Regions from separate parts of the Homo sapiens genome. Here region 2 is linked to region 1. A link means that fine-mapping ties the variant in region 1 to the expression of a gene that starts in the linked region. Tissue or cell type: whole blood. Region 1 holds a variant in brackets; the other region holds the start of a gene. All regions are shown on one strand. Distances are from middle to middle. Region 1 overlaps RGL1 (ral guanine nucleotide dissociation stimulator like 1). Region 2 holds the start of RGL1 (ral guanine nucleotide dissociation stimulator like 1).

The links.
Region 2: it holds the start of RGL1, and the variant in region 1 is fine-mapped to the expression of RGL1 in whole blood (TOPMed, PIP above 0.99).

The regions. Positions count from the first base shown.
Region 1 is chr1:183,886,730-183,889,647 of GRCh38, forward strand. RGL1 (ral guanine nucleotide dissociation stimulator like 1) reads left to right here. Exons shown (of 18, transcript NM_001297671.3): 8 at 1,745-1,848. Among named protein-coding and RNA genes, the nearest start is that of RGL1, 83 kb to the left of the region's middle. The variant C/T (reference allele first, on the strand shown) is at 1,573.
Region 2 is chr1:183,803,721-183,806,638 of GRCh38, forward strand. It overlaps RGL1 (ral guanine nucleotide dissociation stimulator like 1), which reads left to right and starts at 1,400. Exons shown (of 18, transcript NM_001297671.3): 1 at 1,400-1,604; 2 at 2,655-2,765. The coding sequence starts at 1,578.

The DNA of each region.
Region 1 (2,918 bases):
GAGGCTTACCAGTGGTTTGCTACCAAGATTTATTTTACCTTTCCTGCATTCATCGTAGTCAATTTCTATTGAAAGGATATTTGAAAAAGAAAATTTTTCTGACCTAATATGACTATATTTTCTTGGACTGCCCTTAATGGTATGTTTTTACTTTTGCATCACATCTCCTGGAAGATGCCTCTTTTTCTAGAAATGGGACCAGATGCCTTTTGTACTCCTTTAAACCCTTAGTTTAAACCTCTTTTTGAATAATGTGTTCCATGTGTTTATTTCAATTTGCATGATGTATCTGTTCCTGAGTTCCTTTTTTTATTGCAAGTTTCCTGATTTTTAGAATATAACTTTTGTGAACCTTTGTTGAACCATGCTCCCATAGGCTTAGTTTCCAGATTGCAATTCAGAACATTTCTCTTGTTCTCTCTCTCTTCCCCTCCCTCCCTCCCTCTTTTCCTCCCTCCCTCCCTCCTTCCCCTCCTTCTTCTCTCTTTCTCTTTATATCTTTCCAAATAAGGGGAGGACATTGAGGCATTTAAAAAGGGTGGACATGACTTTTATTAAGTACTTTGGCATTTACTCTAAAGAAAATGTTTGAGGGTTTGTTTGGCATAGTTTTCAGTGTCCAGATTTTGGCATGCTAAATTAGAGTGCTGTTTTTCCTTCGTATTCAGGATTAACATTTCTTTGTGAAATGATTCTCGAAGTGATTTACATTTATGCCCAATCACTCTGGGACTTCTTACCTGAGATACTCTACACAAAACCAAATACGTGCTCACATGGTGTACTCACTTGTAAACACTGGGCCTAGTACGCTGTCATGTGCCTGTATATGAAGCATCTCCTTTGACATAAGGCCTGGTCCAGTCTCCTCACGTTGCTACCTTCCCCATGCCAGCCAAGAATGGGACTTTCTCCCTGTCTGTTTTGCTGTCCCTGCTATTCAGTCACAGGACTTTGACTCCAAGGTCACTAACTGCTGATGCTACAGGCTCCTTATGGTAGCTTAAGTTTAAATAGGGAGCCTCTCTCCTTACCCAGAAAATGGCATCCAGAATGTTTCCTGTTCTCTTTCTATTTTGTTTTAAAACATTGCCAAAATGAATTTTATTTTAAAAGGCCGAGTTATTTTGGAAGCATTGAAGTACCAAGGTGTTTTTGAATGTTTATGGTTGCAGGACAAGCCAATTTGAAACCAAATGAATGTGTATAAAAATATCCCCCCTTGGCTAAGAGCATAAAAGCCAAAGTTCAACTTGTGGTGAATTTTTATTGCCAAATTATATACACCTCTGTGGACAAGGGTTGGTGATGAGATGTTCAATACCATCTGACCTCAAAGTGGCTGCTGCCCAGCTCATTTTGGGATCTAAAGAAGATCTAAAGTGCATATTTTTAGGACATCTGTGTGCTTTCAGCAGAAGAAAGTTGCTCTTTCTAGCATAGCTCTGTAGACTTACCTCCATTAGTGTTTTTACTAGGAAAGCTGGAAACTATAAAACTGTAACAACAACACAAAAAAATATATTGACGAGAGAAAAACAAGCATACTGTGCCAAAATCTATAAAGTGTTT[C/T]GATGACTGGGGTGGGAGGAAGGAGCCACTTTTTGATGTTCACTATTTATACAGCTGCCTATTTTGTGGTAAGAATTCATAGCAGCTGTGATACCTCTAAAACAGGAAACCACCAAGTCATTGTAATATTGATAGTTAAATGCCTTTTATGTTTTAATCACTCCCCATGCAGGAATGTAGACTCCTGAAGAATTTTTCCTCCTTGAGGGCCATCGTTTCGGCACTGCAGTCTAATTCCATCTATCGGTTAAAAAAGACTTGGGCTGCCGTCCCAAGGTAAGTTCCCAAGTGTTTGCTCTGCTTTTCTTTGGCCGGGATAATTAGTGGTTGTGATGAGTCCTCACCTTCAAAGCTTGTATCGCATAACTAGAGAAACATATTTGAAATCCTCTGTGTGTTTCAGGCAGGGTGCATCTTACACATAATCATTAATGACTTTTGAGGCAGGGCTCCTGCAGAAATCAAACTCATTCTAAGTATACCAAAGCCAAGATTATTGGCTTTGGGGATGATTTGAAGGATGTGCTTATTATCTGGATTTTGAGGGATAAGGTTGTGGAGTGATGAAGTTACAGCAATTTGCCATTACTTCTGGTTATTTTTCAGCCTCACTACAAAGCCCTAAGCTATTTTAGGACTCAAGGGGTAATGTGTGCAGATAGGACATTAGTTCTTGATGTTCAGTAGGAAACTATTTAGTTGTCCTTTTAGTTTCAGCATTTTAAAAACTATCTTATTGGCATTAAAAACCTTTAAATGTTCTTTCCTAAGTACCTGAAATTATTAACTGGCCACATCCTATGCTGTTTTTCTTCATATTTCTTGGTGCAACCGTTGGAATAATTAACAACTTGGTTTCCTGATTTTTGCACTACTGCCATCACTTCCATTTCCGGAACTTCACTGTAGATCAAAGAACTTTGTGCAAAGGAAGGAAAGGTGAGGGAGGGGGCAGTTCTGATTCTCTGTCACTACAGATTTAGAGGCTGGGGATTGTGTCATGAGTACAACTAGGCCAGCTACATTCAACAAGTTTGCCCAGGTTTGAACTAGTCAGGAAGTTAGGCTATATCAGGGAAGAATCTATAAATTCTGTATGGTCTATACCACATGTGGTATAGTCAGTTTCAGTTAGGAGGAGAGGGATGCCAGCTGGCTTCCCAGCCAGGCTGCCTTAGTGGGGCAGAATGGAAGGTCTGGGTCCTCAGTTTCATAAGTTTACTCAGAGTTGATCAAGCCCTAAGAGACTGGCATTGTTTGAATTTGCAAGAGCCCCAAGCTGGTAAACCAGAGTTTCATAAATTTATGCTGAAAAATGAGTGCCAGAATCCTCAAGCTTGCTGATA
Region 2 (2,918 bases), 83 kb before region 1:
GTCCTCAGTTGCATTTCGTGGTGTCCAAGATCACCTAATAGGTCCTCTAGAGGTGGGCCTGGGTTCCTGAGGATGGCTTAACAAGCAGGGAGGTAGGGCCTTCACATGATTTTCCTCTGGTTCCCAGCAACATTCTGCCCTGATCATCATAGAAGGATTTAGTCTATGTGTTTTTCGTTCGTTTGTTTTTTAAATTATAGAACAACCACTTCAGCTTGCTAAAAGGGCATCTCCTCTCTATACAGTGATGGTGCCCTTAGGTTCTGGTTGTATGGGGATAACCTGGCTGAATGACTTGTAGATGTTCTCAAGTGTCCACAGATCCTTTTGTTTTTGCTTAATGTGCCCTTGCTGTCATTTATTCTGCTCTCCTGGGAACATCAGTACACTTGATTTGCTAAATTGTCAGCTCATGATATATTTACCATTAACCAAAACCCAGGCTTATGTCATAGTATGGCAATTAGTGGGAGACCTATTTTTTTTTTTATTTGAAGGTGATTAAATTCATTTAGGGTGAATAGTATGAAAGACATGAGCCCTAAAGGTATTTGCAATTTGCATGGAATTCTGGCAGGTGTCAAGTTTGACTGCATTATCTGGTATCTCTTGCTGTTGACTTGTTAAAACTGGATCTAAAAAAATGTAATAATCTTTTATCCCTATAGCAGATCTTTCCATTATGATAAAACTCCTGCTGGTAGTCATCTGATGAAGAACTTTTCCCTGTGGCTATGATCCTACTGTGTCCCTACAGTACAGGCAACTCAACCCATGGTGGCTACTCACAAAGACTCACAGAACCTCCAGGACACTGTCAGTCCTAGCAAAACCTTACCCTGCTTTGTTCCCTTCCCACCCCCAATGGCCAGTTACTGGGTAATTGGGGTGGTGAAAAGCCCAGCGCGATTTCCTGTTGGCAGTGTGCTGATGCAGGAGAGGGTATAGCCCCTGGGCATGGTTTTGGAATACCCGGGTGTCCTCTGACCTTATCCTCTGTCCTAATGAAAAACTTCCTGGCGTCTAGTATTGCGGCTCTCACTGGGGTCATTCTGACTTAATTATTCTAAAATCAAAATAGATAATAGGCAGATAATGGAAGTTTTTTGGACTTTCTCCTTCCATTGTTTTAGCGAAGGAAGAAGACACACACAAATCCTCCATCCCACACTCAGTTCTATTTTGGCACCTGGTGACCGTCAGGAAAACCTGATAAACTTGAAAGTGTTGTTTCCCAATCACCTTCAGAACTGGAGAAACGCTTTCATGCTGACTTTATCCATGGGACTGAAGAAAGGGAGAGTGTGCTCACAAGCACAAACAGGAAAGCCTTACATCACGGAGTGGCGTGGGGAGGAGTCTGCTCCTCGCTTGCTCGCTCGCTCGCCGCGCTCCCTTTGTGGCCCGAGTCGCGCGCACCGGCGGCGGCGGGGGCAGCGCGGCGCGTGTCTGTGCGCTGCGGTCGCTCGGGACCGGGACCGGGGCGAGGCGCCGCGGGGCTGAGCCCAGCAGACATTGCGTTGGCCTCCGAGCAGGGCGCATCATGCAGCGTTCGCGCACCGGAGAGAAAACTGAGAATGAAATTGCTTTGGCAAGCTAAAATGGTAACGAGAGCTCTCTGCCTTCTCCCGAGGCTTCTCTGGTGGGGAATCTTCTCCCGCTTTCGCTGGGCGTGTTTTGGACTCCCTCGGAGTGAACGGAGCAATCCGATTCCATACTTGTGAGCTAAAGCTCTCTCACTCCGCTTTGTATTCCTCTCTCTCTGCGTGTCTTCTCCCTTTCAACCGTACCTACTTTCTCAGCAATTGCCTGTGGTGTGTCTGGGGCAGATGCATGTCAGGAGGGGAGAACTTTGAAGGAAAAAGAACTGTTAGTGTGGGTGAACCGCGGAGCGCTTCTGCGTCCCAGCGGCTCTTTAACACAAACCTCAGGTTTAGCTGGGGACATGGAAATCCAGGGGGTCGCTGCACAGATTTTAGTAGAAGCTGCCTGATGATGTGTTGCTTTTTCTGCACTTGCCAGATTATTTTACGGAAATAAAAACTTTCCACCCCCGCTAACTTTGTGGGCTCCAAAACAATGAGGAGAAAAGACAAGCAAACCACTTCACTTCCAAAGGAGTGAGGACTCTTGGCGTTTTAAACACTTGTTTGTGTCTGAGTTTAAAATCTGGTTTCTTCAATGACCGAGCCACTCTAAAAAGTACAGACTTATTCTTTTCTTTTTTTCTTTTTCTTTTTCTTTTCTTTTCTTTTTTTTTTTTTTTTTTTTTTTTTTTTTTTTTTTTTTTTACAAAGAATTATTTTTCCTTTCACTTAAGGGGGACAAGTTAATCAGGACTAATCTAGTTTCTTTGTAAAGAAAAAGAAAGACTTCAAAACAAAACTATTTAAGATATGTGAGCAAGTCTAGGAGAAATAACTAAATGGAAAAGTCAGGGGATCCTGATACCACAGGAAGGGACTGCAAGCCAAGAAAATCTCAGCATTCCCTCTATCAAAATGTGTCTTGTATTGCGGATTGTAATATTTATTTTGAACAGCCCATCTTGTGCCCTGAGTGCTGTTGTAAGCAGCAAGGCAGCTGGGATAGATTGTGGTTAGCAGAGAGGAAAAAAATACTCTTTTTCTTTCTCTTTATCCCGTCCCTGGCAGAGCTCGATTCAGGACTGGGGTGAAGAGGTAGAGGAAGGAGCTGTTTACCATGTCACCCTCAAAAGAGTCCAGATTCAACAGGCTGCCAATAAAGGAGCAAGATGGCTAGGGGTGAGTAAAGCTGGCGAGATGGTGAACTTTGGAATTTCAGTGTCTGTCGTTCTGTGAATATCATTATTATTTAACAGAGGCAGGCTTTTTTTTTTTTCCTCTTTTCGCTTTAAAAAGGAAAATGCTAATGACCAAGTGTTTGCACTAGCTGAA